3 separate regions of the Homo sapiens genome follow, and regions 2 and 3 are each linked to region 1. The links come from fine-mapping of genetic effects on gene expression. A gene starts in region 1. Each other region holds a variant in brackets. All regions are shown on one strand. Distances are from middle to middle.

Region 1 (8,177 bases):
AGTGGGAGAGAAATATTTAGGGAAGCATTTGATTTGGCAGGATGGGAGAAGCATTTGTCATGCATTGACTGCTGAGACACCAGCAAAGCCCAGGCACAGAATTCCGCCCTCCAGAGGAATGGCTGGAGTTCTGTCCGTGAGCCAGTTTTCAGTTCCAGCTGTGCAATCCTGGGTAAGTCACTTCTGAGTCTCAGTTTCCACATCTGTAAAATGGAGGGGATAATCAACTACCTAAGAAGCCTGCTCAGAGGTTTAATGAGAACATGCATGAAAGGTCTTCCAATTCCAAGGTATTCTGTCATGTCCCGCGGTCCTCGTACTGACATCAGAATAACCAGAGGAACTTTTAGAAAACATAACCTGCCACATGCCACATCTACAGAGTCAGGGTGGGGGGCAGGGGTGGAGACACATCCTTTTTCTTCCAGCTCTTCTTTTCTGCTATTTCCACACATGGTCCTGATGCTTTATTAACTTAAGACCTGCCAGCTTCTGATAGCTGAAAAGAAGAAAATGCAGCAAGAAAAATAGAGATCCTGGAGGCTCATGGAGATACATTGGATCTGAAGGGTTTTCTGGTCAGGGCTTGATCGCTATAATGAAGGACAGAAAATGAAAGACCTGTCTCAAAACATGGAAAATGAGCAAAGCGGCTGAAGGGACGAATAGTGTCTTCTGACCTCCACTCAAGGGCTCTTCGAGAAAAGAGATCTTCCAACAGATCACCCGCAGCTTCAGTATGGCTGTTCAGGTAAGTCAATTAAAATCACACCACGACCAGACATGGTGGCTCACACCTGTAATCCCAGCACTTTGGGAGGCCAAGGCAGGAGGACTGCTTGAGCCCAAGAGTTCGAGATCAGCCTGGGCAAGATGATAAGACCCTCGTCTCTACAAATAATTTAAAAATTAGCGAGGCACATGGTGGTGTGCCTGTAGTCCCAGCTACTCAGGAGGCTGAGGCAGGAGGATCCCTTGAGCCCAGGAACTCAAGGTGGCAGTGAGCTATGATTGCACCACTGCGCTCCAGCCTGGGTGACAGAGTAAGACCTCATCTCTAAGCAAATAAATAAAAGCACACAGCACCCTATGGCTTATAACACATTTGCATCTGTATTGATTCATTTGATCACCCCGATATCCCTGGGAGATAGGGCTTCTTATTTATCCCTATTTTACAGGTAAGGAAACTGAGGCTTAGGGGAGAAAATGACTTACCCAAAGTCCACAGTTAGCCAGGGATAGAGGAGTGATGGTTTGCACCTGGGATCCTTAGATTCCCAGGCCTTTCTGCTACACCACCTCTGCTCTTTGTGGAGATTAAAAGGCAACAGAAAGAGCACTGGAGCCCTAAATGTTGTGCCAGCTCCGCAGAGAACATGCTATGTAACCCCAGACAGATCTCTTGCCCTTTCTGGGCCGCACCACTATCCATCTAGTGTGGTTGTTTGGATTAAATCATGATCTTAAAAGTATCCAGCACAGTCCCTGACATGTCACAGTGGCCAAGATGATCACAAGAAGGGGAAGAGAACGGTGAAAATGATGGTGCTTATATACAAAGGACATGGCAATATCACAGATGGAGAGGCCAACTTCGCCAGAGAGAGGACTCCCTGGGGGCGAAGACACTGAACAGACATGAAGAATGGAGAAGGTCCACCTCCCTTCCCTTACTTCTAGGTGACTAGGGGACTAAAACTTGGGATGTGTAAGAGGGGGTGGCCAGAACTGATGCTGGAGAGTTAAGGTGAGGTGGGGGCATATCACATAGGCCTTGAATGCCACACCAAGCAGTTTGGCTTTTGCCATTGAAAGGTTTTAAGCAGGCAAGTGTCATGATCCATTCTGCAGATCTGCAGTTTAGAAAGGGCACTCTTGCTGGAATGTGGACAGCAGACAGAAGAGGAGAGTCTAGAGGCACAGAGACTCTCAACTGGAGGCACAGTGATGAGGGGAGGTGGGTAAAGTTCATGGAGATCCACCAGCTGAAGCCCCTCAAGGCCACCTCTCCCTAAGGGGAGGTCAAGGGAAATGATGAATGTGAAAGTGCTCAGAAACTGCTGCCAGCTACCAGCCAGTGTGAAGGGTTGTTGATTACTTTTATGTTAAATGTGAGGCCTGGAGCCTCCAGCCCAGCTGGCTAGAACCTGCACACACAGTGCAGTGGGAGTTAGCTTCCCTGAGTTCCCGGGCAGTTGGGTATTTTCATCTCCAGTTCTCAGATGCTGAACTTGAGACTCGCTAAACAATTCCACATGGAGGAGAGGATGGAAATCGTTAGTCTAGGGCAAGGGGAGGGGGGCGCCATTCCTTCAAAAGAATGTCCCTATGGGAGGGGAGGAAGCAGGAGGAATATAAGCTAGACAAGCCAGGGAGTCCAGAGGTCATTCCCGGGCACCCTCCCCTCCCAAGCCTGCTGGGCTTTCCAGTCTCTACCCCAGTCCCTGACGGAAGACATTTAGCAACCACACAAAGGAGCTTCCTGTGAGCCAGACTAATGCTTTACCTAAATTACCTTGTTTATTCCTCACAATAGCCTCTTCTACAGTTGCAGACACTGAGTCTCAGAGAGGTTAGGTAACTTGCCTAAAGTTACCCAGAGCTGGTAAGTGGCAGGGCTGGAACCTGAATCCTGACCAAGCTTGGCCCTCACCCGATGCTGATTGCAGGTCTCTCTCCCATCTAGGCCAGGAGCCTTTAGAGAGGGGAGGGAATGGGAGGGTGGGAAATGGGAGGGGCCCGACTCCTCTCTATGGGTCCCAGGGGTTGTGGAGTTGAATCCCTGCAGCCCTTTTAAGCCCAACAGTGAGGAAGACACTGGATACCAAAGGGCCCATGGTGCCATCCCAAAGACTGATAAGGAGTGTGAGCTGGATGATCACAGAAGGACTCCTAGTTCTGAAAGCTGGGATTCTAATCAGGAGAGGACAATGAATGGAGAGGAGAGACGGGAGTTCTCCCTGCTTCCACACATATGAGACCAGGCTCCTAGCCTTTTCTCTGCACATTCCTAACTGGCAGGGTCCACAGGTGTCAACCCAAGTGCATCCCCAAGACCACACAATGGCTCTGAGTGCAGAAAGGACCTGCAAGACCAGTTTGTTTTCTGGGCAGCAGATGATTTTGCTGGCCTGAGGCCTGGGGCAGTGGTCTCCACTCCTACCTCACCACCTCTCTAGTGTCTTCCTTCTTCCCCAAGTAGACCGGCATGCATGCACACACAGGCCCAAGCAACTCCTTTTTTTTTTTTTTTTTTTAATGAATAAGAAAAAGTAATAAGGAAAGAAGCAGCAAGCAGACTGGGTGTGTTAACAAGTCTGGGCCACTGCAGGAGGTACATTGCCCAATTTCTGCACCCCGAGGCCCTCCAAAGTCTAGGAGAAGCTCCTGGGAGGTCCAGGGCCCAAGACCAAAGCCTCTATCAACTCTCCCACCTGTGAACTGCCCCTCTCCCAAGGTAGGCATTGTCGGGGTGTGTAGACTGGGAGCCACCCACACACCTGACTCTCCCCTCCTAGGAAATGCGTCCACCAGGTCATTTCTCCTGCAAACCCTCATTTTAAAGTGTCTTGGATGCTTTCCTGCCCTTTTTTTTTTTTTTTAACATAAAGAGGGGTGAGAGCCCAAGAGCTACAGCAGGGGGAATAGACTGAAACTGCTGCCTACTCACACGCCAGTTTCCCTTCTTAGAACTCTAACCAGAAGCCAATGGTTTCCTCCTAAAAGAAAAACTCAATCTGTTGACTTTCTCTCTCCTCTCCTGCCAGCTTTTCTGCCCGAGCCGGGCTCTCTCTTCTCTGTGGGTTCGTCTTTCAGCCAGTCTTTCTCTGCTTCAGATTCTTGGTTTCTTGCTCCCGGTAGTCCCTGAACCTCTTTCACTCTTTAAAAAAAAATGGGGAGGGGCGGTGAACAAGCAAAGAGGAAGCCCTCACCCACCCACCAAATCTCTTTCTTACTAGCAACTAATTCCCTCTCTCTTTCCACACACACAGTCATACACACACATACACATACACAGGCACGTACTCCGGCGACCTCCAGATGTTCCCGACAGTGCGGCCATCTGCTTAGATTGCTGGGGCGCGCAGGGGGAGGGGGCAGGGATCCGGGATGCAGGAAGCTGTGAGCGAGGCCAACTAGAGGGGGCGGGAGCAGCGCACTTTTGAGACGCTCCCTAGAGTGGAACCCGGGCTCGGCTCAGGCTCCGCGGGCGGGGCGCGCGCCGAGAGAGGCTGGCACTTTGGCGACACTCCCTGAGCCGCCCCGCGGCCGGCCCGAGCCGCCACCCGGCGCCCGGCAGGGGGGAGCCTGGCTGCGGGCGGGGACCGGGGGGCGGGCCGCGCCGCGCGGAGAAAAGCGCTGGCCGGAGGGCCCGCGGCCGGGCCGCCGGGGTGAGCGTGCCGAGGCGGCTGTGGCGCAGGCTTCCAGGTGAGTGCAGTTCCCCGGGCGGGGCGAGAGTCCGCGCTGCGGTTGAAGATCCCAAGTCCCCGATCCTAGCCTCGCGGCCCCTTCGGAGGGCGGGCTGGGGACGCCGGGCGCAGGGGCGGGGCTGGGTCCCGCCGAGGCCCCTCAACTTTCGTCGGACGCCTAGGGCTGGGCGGGAGTGGGGAACGCCGACCCAGGGGAGAGGTCTTGCGGGAGACAAAGGCTACGCCCAGGGGCCGTGTGGGTCTTTGTGCGGACACGTGCATCTCACGTTTGTGGGTCTTTGTGGATTTGCGGTCGGGGACGCGCCGCTGTCGGTGCCTTTGTGTGTCCGTGGCTTTGCGCGGCTGCTTTGCGCCCGTGTCCACGTTTGCGGGCCTGCGCTTGGCTGTGGGCGTCGGTGGGCGCATCGCGTGTCTCCGCGTACGTGGTCGGTGCCTGCCGACGTGTCTGGGCTGGGTGTCCGCAGAGGGTGTGCGCACCGAGAGCCCAACGCCGCCCCACCCCCCCGCTCCCCCGCCGTCCCCTCGGGCCCACGACTTGGCTCCAAACTTTTCTCCCGGTTCCTCGGGCAACAGCCCCAGTCCTCCCCACCGCTACCCGGCCGGGGGCGCAGACAGCCCTCCCCCTCCCCCTCCTGAGGTCCCAGGACAGCAAGGGGCTGCGACGGGATTGGTGGTCGGGGGATCGGCAGCGCCTGGGGACTGGCTGGGCAGGGGCTGGGCGGAGCGTGCGGACTCCCCCTCAGACCCCGGCTGGGAGGAAGAGGCGAGCGGTGGGTCCCAGGCTCCGGCCCTGGGCTGGGGAGAGGAAGGGACAGGGCGGCTGGCGTTGCCCTCCCCGCGCTTCTTGGAAAGAGTGTGATCCAGAGTTGCGTCTGTTTGGTAGGGAGACAGGCTCCGCTTTGAGACCCACTCTCCGTTTGCAGCCCGCCCCCGGGGTAGGGGGCCAACCCTCGGACCCGGTAGGGGAGAGGGGGACTGCCAGTCCAGATCTGGGCATGCCCGAGGCGCCGGCTCACAGGACCCGGAGCTGGGCTGGGGGCCGTGGGAGCCTCACATACACAGGTTTCAACTGGGACGGCCACTGGCCCCTGTGCGGCGCTGGCAAGTTGCTCAGCTTCGCGGAGTCGCGGTCACTCTGGCACGGACAGGGCGAGAACTCCCTCGCGGCTCGGGGCGTGCGGTGGGAATAACCCGCGCCTCTGGAGCCGGGCGGAGAGCAGCGCCAGCCCACACTTGGCCTGGCGAGGAGGTGACTCAAGACCTTCGATTCTTCTTTCATCTTTGTGCGCCCTGCCCTTCGGATAAGTCTAGACTTGCAGTGCCTGGGGCTGACCGGAGGTGGGGGGGGGGGGGTGCTCAGAGCTGCAGGAGCCTGCTGGGCTTTTGAGCCTAAGTCGCAAAGATAACCGTAAACACCCTCCTCCCCACTGCTCACTCCAGTCTTTAACCTAGAACTTTGTCGGATGCTGCAGACATGATGGAAGGGCACAGGCCGCTAACCTGGGAAAGAAACAACTGTGGGCATTTTCCTTTCCCTCTCCGGCCTCAGTTTCCCTTCTGGAAGGGGAGGTATTGATAGCCTCTTCTGTTCTGGCTGACTGCTTCAGATCCCAGAACCCAGAAACACTTTGATGTTTAACCTACACCTCCATTCTGACCTGACCTATTCCGAGGCACTACTTTGCTCCCCAGGAAGGCTGCAATGCAACCGCCACCGGGCTTCCACCTACCCTTCCTCCAACACCAGGAAAGGCAAAAGCTGATAAATGAGTCAAAAATGGAGAGGGAAGGGAGGGGGATTGACCTTTTCTCCTCTTACTTTTTAAATGACAGTTTGTGGTGGTAAAGTCCAGATCAGTCTTCTTCTTAATCATAACTCCTGGGTCAACACAGGGGATGCAGTTAAGAGTTCATGCTTCAGTTTTCAGAGCAAGGCTGGCCTGGGCACTGAGGACACTTCCTAAAGAGGGTTGGGTCCTCCCTGAAAGCCACCTGGCCAAAACAAGTCCTAAGAGGGGTTCTGTGGGAATAACCCGGAGAAGGGGCCTGACAGGAGATTCCTCCTGCTCATGGTTTTGAAGTCAGTGGGTACACAGGGGAGGCAGGAAGAATCTCCCACAAAAGGATCAGCATGTGCAGGACCTGTGCATGAAAACAGCACAGGTGGTCAGCATGGTGGACCAGCAGACGCAAGGTCTTGAGGGTGGTGAATTGGAAGTGAACTTGAGGCTGGGAAGGCAGGGACCAAATCACCAAGGCCTTGAATGTCAGGCCGAGAAGGGGGATTTGAGCCTGTAGGCAATGGAGAGCTCCTGGAGGATTTAAACAGGCACAGCAGGGTGCGGTTGGTAATTCTATGAAACCCGTCTCTGGCTTGTGGGTGGTGCTGGAGGCCGAGAGACCAATCTGGAGGGCGAGTGATCCAGCCTCTTAGAGTCAAAGGGACCCAGATTTTACTCCCACCCCATTGCTTCCTACCTCTGTGGCCTGGGACAAGTAACTTATTTAAAATGTGAGGATACTAATTCTTGCTCCACTGATTTGGTGTATTAAATAAGATAATGAATTACATGTGCAAATAAATAAAAAGTGGTTTGTAGTGTGTATTACATTGTGCAGACATTCATTGGATTGCACTGACAATAGAAGGCAGAGACAGCATTGACTCTGGTCCTAAACCTGATCTCACCAGCGGGCAGAGCCCTAAGCATCCTGCAGGGTTGCACCAATTGTTATGTTCCCCACAAAGCAGAAGGGAGCTTTCTGTCCATGACATTTCATTCATCTGATTTATCACCTTCATGTGGCCAGGCTCGTGCAGGCAAGGAGGTAGACACAGATTCGTAGATGGCCACAGAAGTGGGCCAGTACCTTGTCGGGGGCAGCCCAAGGGCCATGGGCGCTCACAGGATGGGTGGCCTTTCCTGGATGAGCGGCAGGTTAGACTGGGAAAGCCTCACAGAGGAGGTGGCTTTTTGAATGAAATGTGTGAGAGTTTGCTGGTAGACAAAGAAGGGTATCTTTGCATCAGAGGGAACAACGTGTGCAAAAAGGCAGGTGGCTCTAGAAGAGTCACAGGCCTCTAGACTAGAAAGCTGTCTCTGTGGGATGGGTTTTAAAGAGGGAGCTGTAGTAGGGTCCCAGACTTCTGTTGGGAAGTGCGTTCTGGTGCCAGCATGGCTGGCAGTTGGAGTCAGGCCAGGAGCGAGGCTGTTGCAGCAGGTCTCTTGAGCCTGACCTGGACAGGGGGAGGTGACTGCCCAGCTTAGGGATGAGGGAAAGGGAAGACAGTGACCCCAACTGCCCAGGGGGATCTGCGAATTTGATGCTGAGCCCTCATTCTGTCACAGGCAACACAGCAGCTTTTGCCTGCTTTGGTCTCTGAGACCTTTCCAGCTCACCCTTCCCAGTCTCCTGGGAGTGCCTTGTCAGCATCTTGTAGCCACACTGGGATCCTGGATGGTATGTGGAGAGAGGATCCAAGGCCTCTGGGATGAATTGTGGATTCTTCTCCATCTTCAGCCCCTGCCTTCCCTCAGGATTTGCTGGTGTCACAGCACCTTTTTCTTCCCTGGTCCCTGAAATCACTCACTGGGGACAGGAACCAACATTCAGTGAATACCAACATGTGCCAGGCCAGGTCTGGGTCTTCACTTTGCCTCATGTAATCATCACAGTGACCCGTTAGGACCAGCACTGGGATTATCACCATATTACAGACGAGGACTCAGAGGGGTGAGGGCA
Region 2 (8,177 bases), 27 kb before region 1:
TTTGTGACTCTTAATTTTTTATTTTAAGTCTTGCACTAGGATTATCATAATTTATATAAGGGCAAATGTGTATGAGCACTGACTGTGCACTTTCACATTCCTTATTCAATTTCATTCTCTTCGCAAGTTTGCAAGGTAAGTTTTACGTCTCCATTTTCCTGAGAATCTGATATATGCAAAGCCACAGGTGATCAGCGATTGAGATTCAGTCATTCATCATCTCCTTTTCCCTTCATTTGTTTACTATTCAATTCTTTTTGAGCATCCCCCCTGGCCAGCCACAGAAGGCATAGATGGGATTTGAACACAGATCTCCTGACTCCTGGCTTATTCCTTTGTCAGGCATTCAGATTCCCTCTCGAGTAACATTTATCAAGAGCCTTCAGTGTTGGAGGTTTTATCCATGTCTTAACATGTAATTCCCATAACAGTGTACCAGGAGGGAATCTGCTGTACCACTTTACAAGTTAAAAACAGAGGCTCAGAAAAAAGAAATCGTTTGTCTGAAGCCTCCCATTGGCAGAGCCTAGGATCCCACAGGGCTGAATCTAACCTGTAGATTCCCACCTCAGGGTTCACATTCCATCCCATTTTTCCTTTCTCTGCCTTGCCCTCTCGTGCCTGGGTTCTCTTATATCCCTCGGGCTGGGTTCTGGGGTGAAAACTGAAGCAGCGAGCTATCTAACAGCCCAGCTCCCAGCGGGCTCTGCGGGGGAAAGGCAGCAGAGGAAAGCATTCCCCGGTGTGTGTATGTTTGGGGGTGGGGGCATAAGTGCAGCCCCGGTTCTGAGGGCTGCTCCCTCGCCAGGCACTGGAGCAGTCAGGGCCTGGAAGGGACCAGGCTACTTCATGCAGGGTAGGGGTGGGGCATCTCTAGGCCAGCTAAGCTCAGATGACCTTGGCCATGGGTCACAGTCAGTCCCTTCTCCCCCTTGGGAAGGCAGCGCTGGGATGTTGTGGGTCCAGTACACTCCCCCGACTGTCCTGGGGCACACACCCGACAGAGGTGTGTGGAGGAGGTGGGGTGGGAGAGGGGACTCAGGCTGGTCAGGGCAGGTTCGGAGGCGGGCCTGGTTTGGAGAAACAACCACCCATCAGCCAGGCTTGGGGAGGGGAAGGCCAGAGGAGAGGAAGGAGGAGTCTGGAGAGGGGAGAGAAAGACGTAGAAAAACAGACAAGGAGAGAGGGCAGGAGTGGGGGACACAGGTACTGGGAGAGAGTAGAGACACAGAGACAAGAGAGAAAAGGCAACAAAGACAAAGCCAGAGACGCCCAGCCCGAGAGACAGAGCCACACGGAGAGAATGGAGAGGGGAGCAGGGTCAGAGGGCCCGGACGACGCAGAGAAGGACGCGAAAGGACGTGAGAGGGACTTCCCCCAGGGGCAGGGAGAGGCCTTGGGCAGCTCCTCCGCTGGGCCGGGCTGCCTGCCTGCTGGACTCCGGGAAGGAGGCAGTGACCGCACCCATCTGGAAGCTGTCAGGTCCCTCAAGGATGAGGGCGTTGGGAGGAAGCCAGACATGAGCCACGTCTAGAGAGAGGAAGCGGCGGGATTTGAAAAAGATGTGAGTGGGCAGAGGGGGCAGGGAGGTTGCAGTAGACTGGGCTCTCCTGTCTGGAATTTTTCAGTGGGGAAAAGAGAGAGTCTGGCAGTTTGGGGCTCTTCTGGAGAAGGCCTGGACTGGGCAGGTTGATCAGAGAAGGCCAGCTCCCCAACCCCACCTCTAGGAAAACAGAGCCCTAGAGAAGGGAAGTGAAGACCCAAGGTCACAGTTTTCAGGTCATGTCATCATTCATTCATTTATGCACTCATTGATTCAGCAAACATTAACTGAGTCCAGTACTGTGCTAGGTTCTAAGGGAACATAGATGAGCATTAGATAGTCTCTGCCCCAGAGCCCACAGTCTGTGGGGAAGATGGATGTGACTACACAGTGTGCCAAATGCCACCATGCAGAGAAGCCCAGGGGTGTGAAGGTCATTCTGGGGGATTCAAAGGCAACTCCCTGAGGAGGGATACCAGGGCTAAACCGAACCGACCAGGAGGAGCAGGGAGGGAGGGCATGCCAAGCTGGGAAGGCCAAATGACCAAAGTGTGTCACACTGGTGGGGGGAGTCATCAAATTCAGCTCACTTTACTCTCCAGTGCACAGGGAAGCTGTGATTTTATGTGTTACTAATCTGACTTTCCTCCCAAACTCCTCCCTCCCTGCCCTAACCCCAGGTTGGCGGGAAAAAGTTACAGAATGCCATCTAATTTGGTTGAAAGTTTGGTCTGATCTGATCATTGAAGCTGTCTAGGTAATATCAGTCTGTCTTGTATAAAAACGTCCTGTCCCTCAGGTCGCTTCCCCTTTCACCTGCCTCTCAGCTGTGTGGGAGCATCAGGAGTGGTGGGGGAAAGGGTTTTTAGTGGGAGCAGCCAGGCAGGCCGATCGTCCTGAACCGGCAGATGCAGTCAGTGCCACTGCCTCTCCAGGGCCATCCTGCGCCTGTCCAGTTGCTGGTTTCTCCCATGGGGTCTCCAGCTCAGGAGCTCAGGGCCTTCCTTTAGCCCAGGCCGTTCCTCCAGTGGTGGCCCTGGCCAATCTGACTGCGCTTGGGCTCCTGGTGCTTGCAGACCCACAGTCTCTGCCCTGGTCCCCATCAATCCCCCTGCCCAGTGGGCTCTCATCGGCCTCTGCCGCCCGGGCCCTTTACCCTTTCAGGCCTATTGGTTCACTGGCCCTCAATTCAGCCTCCTGGTGCCCTTGGGACAGGCCAGCCCAGGGAAGCTGACGCTCAGGCCTCCCTCTCTTGGGCCACATTGTAAGTCTAAGTTTACAGGGCTGCATTGCCTTGTTGCTCAGTGGCATTCCATAGTATAAATATATTGGAGTTTTTTGTTTTTCTTTTTTGAGCCAGGGCCTGGCTCTGTTGCCCAGGCTGGAGTGCAGTGGCACAATCTCAGCTCACCATGACCTCCACCTCCCTGGCTGAAGCCATCCTCCCCCAATCAGTCCCCCTAGTAGTTGGGACTAGAGGTGCACGCCACCATGCCTGACTAATTTGTGTTGGAATTTTTAACCACTTCTTATTCTTGTACATTTTCCTCCTATTTTTCACTATTATAAACAGTACTACAATAAATATCCTGTACTTTCCTCTTTGTGCACATATGCAGGTGTTTTTCTGGGGTAGATATCATGAGGTGAATTGCTGGGTCAAATACATAAAGATATGTGTATTTAAATTCTAATAGAGCAGGAGTGTCTAATCTTTTGGCTTCCCAGGGCCACACTGGAAGAAGAGTTGTCTTAGGCCACACATAAAATACACTAACACTGGCCAGGCGTGGTGGCTTAC[G/A]CCTGTAATCCCAGCACTTTGGGAGGCCAAGGTGGGTGGATCACCTGAGGCCAGGATTTCCAGACCAGGCTGGCCAACATGGTCTCTACTAAAAATACAAAAACGTCTCTACTAAAAATACAAAATACTAAAAAAAATACTATATATATATATATATATATATATATATATATATATATATATACACATATATCTGGGCATGGTGGGGGGCGCCTGTAATCCCAGCACTTTGGGAGGCCAAGGTGGGTGGATCACCTGAGGCCAGGAGTTCGAGACCAGCCTGGCCAACATGGTCTCTACTAAAAATACAAAAACGTCTCTACTAAAAATACAAAATACTAAAAAAAATACAAAAAAAATTATATATATATATATATCTGGGCATGGTGGCGGGCGCCTGTAATCCCAGCTACTTAGGAGGCTGAGGCAGGAGAATTGCTTGAACCTGGGAGGCAGAGGTTGCAGTGAGCCGTGAGCCGAGATCCCGCCACTGCACTCAAGCCTTGGCGACAGAGCAAGACTCTGCCTCAAAAAAAAAAAAAAAAAAAATACACTAATACGATAACTGATGAGGTAAAAAAAAATTCACAAAAATGTTTTAAGAAAGTTTATGAATTTGTGTTGGGCTTCATTCAAAGCCGTCCTGGGCCACATGCGGCCCGTGGGCCACAGGGTGGACAAACTTGTAATAGAGTCTATCAGATGGCCTCCAAAAAGGCTACGCCAATTTACATGGCCAGCAACTCTTATCAACATTTACTATCATCAATATTTTTCAAAATGTGTCAATGTTATAGGCAAAAACGAATTTCTGATTTATGTTCCTTTTATTTATTCATTTATTTATTTATCTATTTATTTGTTTGATAGAGATGAAGTCTCCCTATGTTGCTCAGGCTGATCTCAAACTCTTGGGCTCAAGCAATCCTCCCACCTTGGCCTTCCAAAATGCTGGGATTACAGGCATGAGCCACCACGCCCTGCTCATGTTCCTTTTAAACTTCCATTTCCCTGATGACCAGTAAGGAGGGCATCTTTGCATGTATACATCCTTTTTATTTCCTTTTCGACTTTCCTATTCAAACACTTTGCCCAGTTTTCTATTTTGTCTGTCTTTTCTTATTGATTTACAGGAGCTGTTTCTATTGCCCAGACATTGATCTCTTCTTATACACGGGGCAAATATTTCTCTTGATTTGTCATTTACGTCTTAACACTATTCTGTCTCTTATTACAAAAAAAGTTCTTAATTGATATGTGGTCAAATGTAGCTGACTTAATTCTTTAGGGCCATTGTGCTTTATTTTTTTTTTCTAAATTAAAATTAAAATTTGCTCAGATCTCCAATCTTATCTCTCTTGGGGAGAGACCCCCTGAATTGTCCCCCACACAGTGGGAAAGGGACTTAGTTCAACCTTCCCAGCCAGTGAGCCAGCACCTGTGTCCAAGGAACCCTTGCGGCCATCACTCCTCCCAGCCACCAGCAGCACCGCATGGAAACTTGGTCCTGCCAGCTGCAGCAGGGCCCTCTGCCAGGCCATCGTGGTCCCCTGAGGGATCATCCCACTACCTCCATGCCAAGCTCAGATAAGGGTGCACCTGGTCTCTTTGCCTGGCAGCTCTGCCTGCGTGGCCCCTGGCCGTGGGTGGTCCTGGCTGGGTGGAGGCTGGCGCCACCATTCTCTCAATGATAAGACTTCTGTTCCCTCTTCTCCTCTGGGTTGGCTCAGGGGCCTGGCAGCTTTTCCTTTTCAGCCCACAAAATACTTTAATTACACTCTAATTACACTCCCATTCCCTGCCCACACTGCTGTCCCCACCCAGGCATGGCTTTTCTCCATGCTTCCCTGCCCACCCCGTTCAAAGGGTGGCTGTGTTTCCCACGAGCTGAGAAGAATACAAATCCTCCAGCAGCAACCTCACCCCTTACCAACCCCTTGTACCCTGACAGCCTAAGCATATGGTGTTGCAGCTATTAGGGGGACCCCATTCTCGTTTTTCATTCCCAGGCAACCCCAGAGTCCAAGATGCAGGTTGCTTCTGGGGTCTGCTTTCTCGAGAACCCTGACCCACCCCTGTTCCTCCAGTGACCCCTCACTCTCCTAGGACTGTGGGGGCCTGCCCTGCAGCAACGTTGTAAGGAAGGCCACATTCAGGAAATCCAAGGTCATTTTCTGCCTATTACGCTTCTTGTTAAATAAAATACAACTTAATTCCTTACAGGGCCCTCCTTCTGGGAGAGCACCCACTGCTCATCTGAATTCTAGAGAACCACTCAAGTGCATATAGACGGCATCCATCCTAAGAAGGAAAGTGCTCTCTAAGAAGCCACTATGCCTGAAATGCCACCATATGTATACACCATTCCACTATGGAAAACATTGCCTTTTCGGGGCTCTTCCTGTGAAATGCAGGTATATTTAGCTCTTCATGCTATAGTATGAATTAGCCTATCACTGGGTTCCCTTGTGACAAGAAAGCCCACGGCAACCAGACTGCCCAGGTTTCCCAGGGACATCCTGATTCTAAATATTAAAACATTGCATTAACCGGAATCTATATAACAAAAGTGTGTACTCCCTACACATCATTCTGTTCTTTTCAAGGAAATGGTTTGTTGAGTGTGTGACTGCATATGGTTTCATTTTTATGCCTTATTGACACTTAACCCTGTCCCAGGCCATGAGCTCTTGCTGGACATACCAGAACAAAGACATAGTCTCTTCAAGATGGCATTCACAGCCATAGGGCAGGACGACAGGTGGGCGACAACCATAGCCAGCAGAAGAGCAGACACTGGAACAGAGGTTCAAACCAACAACTATGGAGCGAGCTGAGGTGGTAACTCATGGTCCGGGGAGCTGAGAAAGTCCTGAGGGATCTCTGGGTGTAGCCAGATGGAATAGACTGGCAAGGGCATTCCAGACGGAAGGAACAGCCGTGCTAAAGCCCAGAAGCTGAAAATAGCATCTCGCTTTCAGGGAGTGGCAATCACCTCGCTACTGTGAGGGCTGGAGAAGGGGCGGGTGGAGTGAGAGGAGGGCAGCAAGGCAGGGGCCAGGTCATGAAGGGCCTTGCATTTACCAGTCTAGAAGGGAGTCTGCAGGTTTTATCTTGAATGCAATCAAGACTCATGGAAGATTTTATTTATTTCTTTATTTTAGCCTTTTATTGAAGCGTAATACATATACAGAAAAATTCACCTATCATAAGTATGCATCTTGGTAAATTTTCACAAGGAATATACCCATGGAACCAACATCCAGATCAAAATCTGTCAGGCGTCTAGCACCCAGAAGCCCCTGCGGGTCCCTGCCAGTTACTATGTGCCCCCAAGGCTGACCACTGTCCTGTCTTCTGGTACCACAGGTTTGTTTTGCCTGTTTTTTGAACTTTATAAATGCAAGTGTACAGTATGAACTGTGTCGTGTTCTGTTGTTCAACAGGACGTCTGTGAGATTTCTCAATATTGCAGCTATCTCCGTAGCTTGTAGCACTCCATTGTGTGAATCCGCCACTGTCTGTTGATGGGCACTGGGTGGTCTCCAGTTCTTGGCTATTATGCATAGTGCTCTGAATATCCTTGCATGCGTCTTTGGTACACATGCCTGTTGGGTATATTCCCAGGAGTAGACTTGGTGGGTTGGAGAGCATGCGCATGTTCAACTTGAATATGTGACGCCAAATCATTTTCTCAAGTGTTTGTAGATGGAGGGTTTTGAGCAAGGAGGTGGCAGGAGCAGGCCTGGGTCTCGGCCGTCCCTCTCTGCACAGGCTGAGTGTGAAGGGCATAGGGACATCCCAGTGGAGCTGTCCTAAGGCTAGAGAGCAGTGGGTCTGGAGCTGGGGAGCTGGGGAGCTAGGCAGCAAGGCTCTGGGCTGAAGAAGGTGGAGAGGGTGTGGAGTGAGGAAGGTAGGGACCAGGGCCAGGCCATGGATACAGCCATAATGAGGATGCCACGGAGACAGAGGAGCCCTCAGAGGCAACTGAGGAGGTGCAGCCTAGAGAAGAGGGAAGACCCGGCAAGAGGAAAGGAAGCAAATCACATGGGTGCCAAGGGGAGCATCTGAGGCAGAGGCAGGCATAGAGCACCAGAGGCACTAAGAGGGCCAGTTAGTCAAGACTGAGCAGGATGTGTCCACCAGACTTGATAAGGGAGCTGTGGGGACCTTAAGGAAGTCATGGTCAATGGGGTTGGTGTGTGTGCCAGACTGCAACAGGACAAAGTAGGGAAGAGATGAGGGATGAGCTTTAAGAATTCAGCACTGCCCCTGGAAGCATGGTATTGGTGCTACTGAAGTCAGCCCACCTGGAGGCCCCAGCATCCTCCCAGATGCAGTGGAAGCCATTCTGCCATTCCAACTAACAAAGGCCTCCCATGGCCAGTGCATTGTGGAGGAGAGTGGGGTGGAGATTCAAGGAGATTAAAAGGGCCAGGCAGTTCTCTCTACTCTTCTGTTGTTTATCTGAAGCTTAAAGGTGATTAGAGAGTGTAGAAATGGAGTAGCTCTGTGGGATAAGAATGAAAACAAAGAACTCCCCACAGACTGTTTGCAACACAAGGCAACTTTGGTCACTGTCCAGGTCTTTTCCTCCCTGGGGACACCTTGCCATTTACTCTCCCTGAGTGTGGCTCTCTCATACCAAAGAGACCTATATCCTAACCCTAGAGATGACAACCACAGCAGAGTATTCTGCCAGGCCTCGTGTTAAATGCTTCCCACACAGCATCTCATGTAATTCTCATTACAATCTGATGAAGATAGAATAGCGTATCATTACCCCTATTTTATAGATGAGAAAACTGAGACTCAGGGAAGTAAAATGACTTG
Region 3 (8,177 bases), 72 kb before region 1:
GAAACTAACACTGTTTCTTCAGAGGGCTGTGGCGAGGATGAAAGGAGGGGAGCATGGCCCTCAGCATGGGGCTTGACACTCAGGAAGGCATGGGACAAACGTCCCTGGAACCTGTGGTCCTAAGAAAGTTCTCCTTAAAAGGTGGACCTCAGGGGTGACAGTGCTGGGTGGTTGCCCCTTACTGCATGGCTTTCCAGGTCCCAGGGAACTCACAGGGCTTGCATTGAGCTAAGTGAGCTGAACGAATGGGCCATTTTTTGTGAGCACCTGCTCCTCTGGGGAGCACTCACCTGGCTGTAGATCTGGTCCATGCTAGGTCTGTCCTCTGGAGCCTCGTCCCAGCACTTCTTCATCAGCCAACGCACTCAGGCGGCCCGTGATCAGGGGTCACCAGCGGCCGGCACAGAGGAGGGGGAGATGCCACCCTCCTGATGATTTCGGCAACCAACACCATGGGGCGGGCCTGGGGTCCTGGGAAAGGTCATGAAAGGAGCCTGGCCTCGGATCCTGAGAGCGTGGGCAGAGTAGGCTTATGGCGGTGCCAGGTTCTGGGCCTGAGGATATTCCTCAGCTCCTGTTTCCAGGGTATGGCTGGCCAGTGGATGTGGCATTATTGTTCTCCTGGGTCTACCCTGGGTGTGGCCAAGGAAAGGGTCTCAAACTGGGGGCCAGGAGAGCCGCGAGCTGGTTTTGAATTCTGGATCTGCCACCACAATACTATGGGATGGTGGAGAAGACAATGACCTCTCTGAGCCTTAGTCTCCCGATCTGTGAAATGAGCATATAAACTGCCTTCTTTTTTCTTTTTTTTTTCTGTTCTTTTTTTTTTTTTAATGTCGCGATCCCAGCTCACCACAACCTCTGCCTCCCAGGTTCAAGCGATTCTCCTGCCTCAGCCTCCAGGCATGCACCACCACGCCCAAATAATTTTGTATTTTTCATAGAGATGGGGTTTCTCCATGTTAATCAGGCTGGTCTCAAATAAACTGCCTTCTTGAGAGGAGTGCTGAGGTGGAAGACGACGGATGTTAGCACCTGGCAGACTCTCCCCCACCCTCAGGCCCCGCAACAACTGCCGCTGCTCTGTTGCCAACAATGCCCACCAATGATCTTGAAACCTTGACAGCGCAGCTCTTTCCTCCAGCCTTGCCACGCAGACACTGGCGTGCCGGTTCCCCACAGGTGTGAACGACACTGCCTGCTTATCATTATCATCATCATTATGATTCTGTCCTCAAGAAAACCTGGCCACATGTCATCCTGTCTCCACACCAGGCTAAGTCAGTGCTCTAGTTCTGCTATGACTCTGAGCCTCAGTTTCCCCACCTAACAACTGATGGAAATAACCCCTGCCTCGGGGGGGCTGCTGGAGAGCCAGGGGGAGCCGAGCGATTCTAAAGTAGGCTGGGGGGAAGAGGGGCTGACACCGAGCTCAGGCTCTGGAGTCCACAGATCAGAGCGGGACTTTAGACGACCCATTTACAGTCCGCACAAGGCGCATCGCCTCTCTGAGCCTCAGCTTCCTCACCTGGAAGACGGGTATAACCATACTACATATTTGGAAGGGTTGTCATGAGGCAGAGTAGGTTAATCTCCTCTGAGGAGGGCCGGGATCCTCCTCTCATGAGTGAGGGAGGTGGGAGCCCTTGGAGCCAGGGAGGAGAAATTTCTTTCTGGGTTTCAGTCCCCTTCCCATCCCTTTTTGGCTTCTTGTTGGGGATAGTGCAGGAGTCACCATTCCATTTTACAGACAGGGAAACTGAGGCTCCTGGGAGTGAAATCAGGTACCCACATAGGGCCAGTCAAAAGCAGACACTAGAACGGGGCCTGGTTTGCACCCAGCCTGCACGATCTCCTCTGCCCAGAGGTTCCCAGCCTACAGGCGTTAGACCCTGAGGGCCCCCGAGTGTGGGATCTGGGAAGTCATATGTGCTTACAAAAGACTGTGTGCTGATGGAACCAGTCATACACCACATGCACACATGTACTACTGATTTTCAAAGGTATGCAGATGGCACTGTAACGAATACAAACAAATCCATTTCAAAGTGTTGCTGATTTCACAGCCGATTTTATCATTGGGTATGTTCTCAGTTAGTGGATATTAGAAGTCAAATAGTAGCATAAGAGGCTCTAACCATTTTTGACATTAAAATGGAGTCTTCATAAGTGAACATGCTGGGAACCCCTGCCCCAGGCCAGGCTAGGTCTCATGCTCCCCTCACTGCGCCAGGCATGCTGTCCACACCCCAGGCATAGCCATGATTTATGGACAGTGCTGAGGGCTGGGGGAGGAGGCTGAGCATCCAGCTCTGGTGGGATCTGGCTGGGCTCTAAGAGGATGCCCCACGGATGACACCAAGAGATTTTAGAACACTGAGCTTGGACCAGGGATGTCCACCCAATCCCAGGTCCACAGCTTCCCCTCTGAGAAGTCCCTTCCACTCTCTGAGCCTCACTGAACTCTAAAAGGGGGGCGATTAGCCACCTCCCAGGGTTGTCAAATGGAATCATGCACATGAAAGTGCCTTGGGAACTGCAAAGTGACCCCCCACCCACAGGATCCTAAAGAGATGTTAGAGTCAGGAGAGAGCCTGGGACCCCCCTTAGCACGCTCCTCACATCACCCTGCAGATATTTATTGAGGACCCACTGCATGCCAGGCCCTCTGTCTACAGCATTTCACTGAATCCTCACAGCTGCGCTGGAAGGCAGACATCATGGTTCCCATTTTACAGATGAGAACACTGAGGCTTGGAGCCTAAAAGGGATTTACTCAAAGTCACGAGGCATGTTGGTGTGGAGCTGGGCTTAGGATGGTGTTCCCTGGAGCCTGTGGCGTGAGCCCTGTACTCCCTGAGGCCTAGGAAAGCACACAGCAGGAAGCAGTGGGCCCTAGGCTGACAGCCTCCTCAAGGGTGGCCAGAGCATTCCAGACCTGGGTCCCTGCACCCAAAGCTGGATGGAGCCAGGCCTGGAGCGCCTTGCACTGGTGGCATGGCTTGCAGATCCCATCTGGCCAGTCCTTCCCTCCTCAGAGGCAGATGATGGGGAGGCAGCCGAGGAGTGTTGAACAAATGGTCTTATAAGGCCCCCCTTCTTCCCACTCCTCCACCTCATAAATTTGGGCCTGGAATGCTCATTATTCACAGGGCTGTGGTGGAGAAAGGCAGTGGGGCTGGGTCTCCTGTGAATTAAAGATTATCCACTGGGGTGGGAGCTGATGGTGAGCTCGGCACCGTCACTGCTCTGCACTGTGGGCCGAGGTGCCAGGTGTCTGTGGAGGGCCAGGTCCCTGGGACTGGGAAGAGGCAGCAGGAGGATGACAGAAAGAGAAGTCTGGGGTCCAGGGAGCCAGACAGAGAGCACAGAGGGGAGGAAACATTTTTGGAGTTGGGCCTTGGCACTGGGGCTGGAAGAGAGAAAGTGTGTACAGGCCAGGTGACGATGGGGAAGCTGCAAGTGATTATCCTGGGGAGCCAGAAGTGTGAGGACAGAGATGCTCTGAAGGAGCCTGCCTGGGCAGGTAACGAAGCCCCGTGGTATTGAGCAGCCTGGCCACGTTGGCCAAGGGGCTGGGGATCTGGCACATTGGTTACTGGATTCCCATTTATAGATGACAACACTGAGGCTCAGAGAGGGTAAGCGGTTTGTGTAAGGTCACAGAGTAAGACAGTGACACAGCTGGAGTAGGGCTGAGCTCTGTGTAGCCTGTGCTGGGCATGGAGGGCAGGTGCAGGCGGGGCATGAGCACCTACAGGCATGGCAGTGACACTGGGGAGGAAGGCAGGGGCGGGGATTTTCACCCAGAGCACAACGTCCTTAGCCCCTGGAGTGGGTCAGCTGCTATTCTGGCAGAGTTGCTGAAGGCTGTAGGGAAAAGAAAGAGAAATCAGACTGTTACTGTGTCTATGTAGAAAGGGAAGACATAAGAGACTCCATTTGGAAAAAGACCTGTACTTTAAATAATTTCTTTGCTGAGATGTTGTTAATTTGTAGCTTTGCCCCAGCCACTTTGACCCAACCACTTTGACCCAACCTGGAGCTCACAAAAACATGTGTTGTATGAAATCAAGGTTTAAGTGATCTAGGCCTGTGCAGGACGTGCCTTGTTAACAAAATGTTTACAAGCAGTATACTTGGTAAAAGTCATCGCCATTCTCTAGTCTCAATAAACCAGGGGCACAATGCACTGCGGAAAGCTGCAGGGACCTCTGCCCTGGAAAGCTGGGTACTGTCCAAGGTTTCTCCCCATGTGATAGTCTGAAATATGGCCTCATGGGATGAGAAAGACCTGACCGTCCCCCAGCCCGACATCCGTAAAGGGTCTGTGCTGAGGTGGATTAGTAAGAGGAAAGCCTCTTGCAGTTGAGATAGAGGAAGGCCACTGTCTCCTGCCTGCCTCTGGGAACTGAATGTCTTGGTATAAAACCCGATTGTACCTTTGTTCAATTCTGAGATGAGAGAAAAACCGCCCTATGGTGGGAGGTGAGACATGTTTGCAGTAATGCTGCCTTGTTATTCTTTACTCCACTGAGATGTTTGGGTGGAGAGAAACATAAATCTGGCTTACGTGCATGTCCAGTCATAGTACCTTCCCTTGAACTTCATTATGACATAGATTCCATTGCTCACATGTTTGTTGCTGA[CCTT/C]CTCCTTATTATCACCCTGCCCTCCTACTACATTCCTTTTTGCTGAAATAATGAACATAATAATCAATAAAAACTGAGGGAACTCAGAGACCGGTGCCGGTGCAGGTCCTTGGTATGCTGATCGCCGGTCCCCTGGGCCCACTATTGTTTCTCTATACTTTGTCTCTGTGTTTTATCTCTTTCTCAGTCTCTCGTCCCACCCAACTAGAAATACCCACAGGTGTGGAGGGGCAGGCCACCCCTTAAAAGGCTGCCCGGTTTAAGTCAAGTTCTCATGGTCAGACTTTAGGTGTGTGTGTCTATGTGGTCTTCAGGCCCAGATTTCCTGATTGCCATAGAATTTCCCACTAGGCAGAGACTCTAGCCAGGGACAGCCAAGAAAGGGGAGGAGGATACCTACCTTCCACTGGAAGTCCCGAGGAGCAGTAGAGTGGGCCCGAGTCAGCACCTCCTGCAGGATGATGCCAGTGCTGAAGATGTCCCCTGTGAGGGTGCGCCGCCCAGGGCGCCCAGGCCCCGGCAGCAGCTCAGGAGCTGTCCATAGCAGCTCTGCAATCATAGGGCAGGGCCATGCCACCATTACCTGCTGACCACCCAAGCCAGGCTGGGTGCATGTATTCTCCCCAATTCACAGGTAAAGAGCCTACAGCTTGTTCAGAGAGGAGAAGCGATCAACTCAAGGTCACCAATACCAGAGGACTGGAGATCTCCCTCTCCCTGCACCTTACAAGCACCTGGTTAAACAGAGGCCCCCAAACCTACTGGCAGCCCCCTGCCTATCCCTGAGCTGACCTTCTGGGGCTGGCCAGGGTTGGGGATCCTGCTAAGTGTCCAGGGGCTCTGCATAACCATGGTCAGTGACCTTGAGCACAAAGCATCTGTCCACCACACAGTTTTGGAACTTGAGGCAGCCAGGAGGGAAATGGTGGTGGTGCAGATACCTCATGCCCTGAGATGGACATAATGGGGGTCCATTGGATCTGTAACGAATGAGAGGAAACCTGGTTCTCTCGGAATTCCCACAAGCCCCAGAAAGCCTTCCTGCCTCCCTGTACCCGTGGCCATGCAGTTTGGATATCCCTGGATTAGACAAAGCTGAAAGAGCCCAGCTGTGGGAAATCTGAGCATCTCCTGTCTCCCTGCCATCCCCACTTCCCTGCAGTGCCAGGCCCAGGGAGGGATCTCATGCAGATCAAATCCAGCAGCAGGGAGGCCTTGAAGGTCCAGTCTAGGTGCAGGACCTCTTTCCGAAGCAGGTTCCCCAGAGATCACGAAAATGCCCAGGCAGGTGGCGACGTTCTCACACCGCAGCTCCCGCATCTGTCAGGGAAATTGGCACCTTAGCAGCCCTCAGGGGCCGTTCGAGGGCTGGACCAGGTGCAATCCACATCTAGGCCACCTGCTCTTAGCACCAAGCACAAGGCTAAGCATGGAGAGGCATCAGAAATGTTGAATGAATGGATGGAAAAACAGACAGATGGATGAATGGGTGGGTGGTGAGGGATGGATGGAGGATGGATGGATGAATGTATGCATGGATAGATGGTGGTGGGTGGTAGATGGATAAATAGATGGATGGGTGGGTGGGGAGCTGGTGGGTAGGCAGGTAGATGGGTGGGTGAGTGGTTGATGGGTGGGAGGGTGGATGGATGATGGGTGAATGGGTGGGTGAGTGGGTACTTGGTGGGCTGGTGGGTAGATGGGTGGGTGGATGGATGGATGAGTGAATGGGTGGGTGGCTGGGTGGATGGATGGGTTGGTGGGCGATTGGTCAGTGGGTGGATGGGTGGTTGGTGGGTGGGTGAGTTGTTGGGTAGGTGGATGGGTGGTTGGTGGATGGGTGTTTGCATGGTTGGTGAGTGGGTGGGCAGATGGATGGGTGGATGGGTGGGTGGATGAACGGGTGGATGGGTGGGTGGATGAATGGGTGGATGGATGGATGGGTGAGTAGATGGGTGGTTGGTGGGTGGGTGGTGAATGGGTGAATGAGTCAATAGGTGGATAAATGGCAGATCACTTGAAGCCAGGAGTTCTAGATCAGCCTGGCCAACATGGTGAAACCCTGTCTCTACTAAAAATACAAAAATTAGCTGGGTGTGGTGGTGCACACCCGTAATCCCAGCTACTTGGGAGGCTGAGGTGGGAGGACCGCTTGAGCCCGGGAGCCGGAGGTTGTAGTGAGCTGAGATTCAGCCACTGCACTCCAGCCTGGGTGAAAGAGCGAGACCCTGTCTCAAAAAAAAAAAAAAAAAAAAATCTACTCACATAGTTGCAAGATGCCCACTGGGAAATGCCTAACTTAACTTCCAGTCACTTAATCCTTCTGAACTTTATTTCAGACTGTGGTGATATTGGAGATATCAATAAAATTCACCATGTATCAAAAGCACACCACTTGCCAGGAAGAGTTCTAAGTTATTTCATGCATTCTCTGCAATCATAATCCCCCAGAAGGTGGCTATCACTAGCTCCATTTTACAGGAAAGCTAAGAGTTCCATGGAGGCAAGATTTCACCCAGATCTTCCTGACTCAAGTCTCATGCTCTGTCTCCATCCCTCAGTGCCTCTCAGGATGGTAATGATCTTGGGGGTGAAAATGCTTATGTGGTTAGTGATAACAGGTGCTTAGGATCTCCCTGAGGGAGGGGACTTTTTCTCTCTTCTCCATTCTGTATCCCCAAAGCCCAGAACACTGCACATAAGTGCCTGGCACATAAGTGATGCTCAGTAAACAGTGAATAAAAGAAAGGATGGGTAAAGGGAGGGGGCTGCAGGATGAGGTCCCTTCATGATGAGTTGCCATGCGAGGGCATTGATGGAGGACACTGCGCCCTGGTGGTTATGGGGATTATGGGTTATGGGGTGGTGACGTGGCTTTAAGGATGCTGGCATGGGACAGTGACAGCAATAGTGAACCACTGTGATTGAGGCATTGGCAGTGGGCAGGATCATGATGGCAAGAATAATTTCCTCTTTGAGACCAACCTGGATCAGTAAGGGTGTCCTGAGCAGCCTCACTCCCCACCCACCTTCTGCGCCCTCTACAGCCCTGCCTTCCTCGGGAGGCTGAGGCAGCTTGGGCGCAGCTCAGGGTCTGAGCCCACTTCACACTTCTTCAGCCACACCCGGTCTCCCTGTTCAAGGAAGAGCAAGAGTTTAGCTGCTGCTGCTCCTCAGCTGTGGGACCTCAGGAAAACCCCTCTACCTCTCTCAGCTCAGTTTCTTCCCCATCAACGCATTCCTTCTGTGTGTTCTGAGCCAGGCACAGCCTGGTGAGCGGAAACATTTGCTATAAGCCGGGCAGAGCCAAGGGCCGGGCTTTGGCTGATGGACTCCAGTTCCAGTCCTGACACCACCACTTTCCAACTCTGTGACCTGGGGTGGGTGACTTCAGTTCTCTGAGCTGCAGGTTCCAAATCTGTAAAGTGAGGATGATAGCACCCACCCACATCTCAGGGGCTTAATGAGATGGTGGGTATCAAGTATGCTCGCCCCTGGTCTACAGCTTTGCCCTGCAGGCCTCAG

Alleles and levels. Positions count from the first base shown, and alleles are read on the strand shown. Sizes are in standard deviations (SD) of each study's normalised expression.
As copies of A replace G in region 2, the expression in fibroblasts of the gene that starts at base 4,383 in region 1 goes down (small effect, 0.27 SD a copy in GTEx).
As copies of CCTT replace C in region 3, the expression in adrenal gland of the gene that starts at base 4,383 in region 1 goes up (small effect, 0.37 SD a copy in GTEx).

What was found. PIP is the estimated chance that this variant, and not a neighbour inherited with it, causes the effect. A credible set is the group of variants that fine-mapping cannot tell apart.
Region 2: its variant is the best candidate, but not a certain one, in a credible set for the expression of TSKU in fibroblasts (GTEx, PIP 0.79).
Region 3: its variant is the best candidate, but not a certain one, in a credible set for the expression of TSKU in adrenal gland (GTEx, PIP 0.76).

Annotation. Positions count from the first base shown.
Region 1 is chr11:76,778,974-76,787,150 of GRCh38, forward strand. It overlaps TSKU (tsukushi, small leucine rich proteoglycan), which reads left to right and starts at 4,383. Exons shown (of 2, transcript NM_015516.4): 1 at 4,383-4,431. It overlaps TSKU-AS1 (TSKU antisense RNA 1), which reads right to left and starts at 4,089. Exons shown (of 2, transcript NR_120562.1): 1 at 4,030-4,089; 2 at 3,608-3,883. RefSeq lists enhancers at 3,620-3,809, 4,044-4,688, 7,076-7,998 and a silencer at 4,240-4,329.
Region 2 is chr11:76,751,541-76,759,717 of GRCh38, forward strand. It overlaps LOC105369397 (a long non-coding RNA gene), which reads left to right and starts at 1,121. Exons shown (of 4, transcript XR_950337.3): 1 at 1,121-1,564; 2 at 5,568-5,758; 3 at 6,024-6,182; 4 at 6,509-6,760. The variant G/A (reference allele first, on the strand shown) is at 3,345.
Region 3 is chr11:76,707,215-76,715,391 of GRCh38, forward strand. It overlaps the pseudogene GUCY2EP. Among named protein-coding and RNA genes, the nearest start is that of LRRC32, 41 kb to the left of the region's middle. RefSeq lists enhancers at 750-1,250, 2,899-3,400. The variant CCTT/C (reference allele first, on the strand shown) is at 4,650.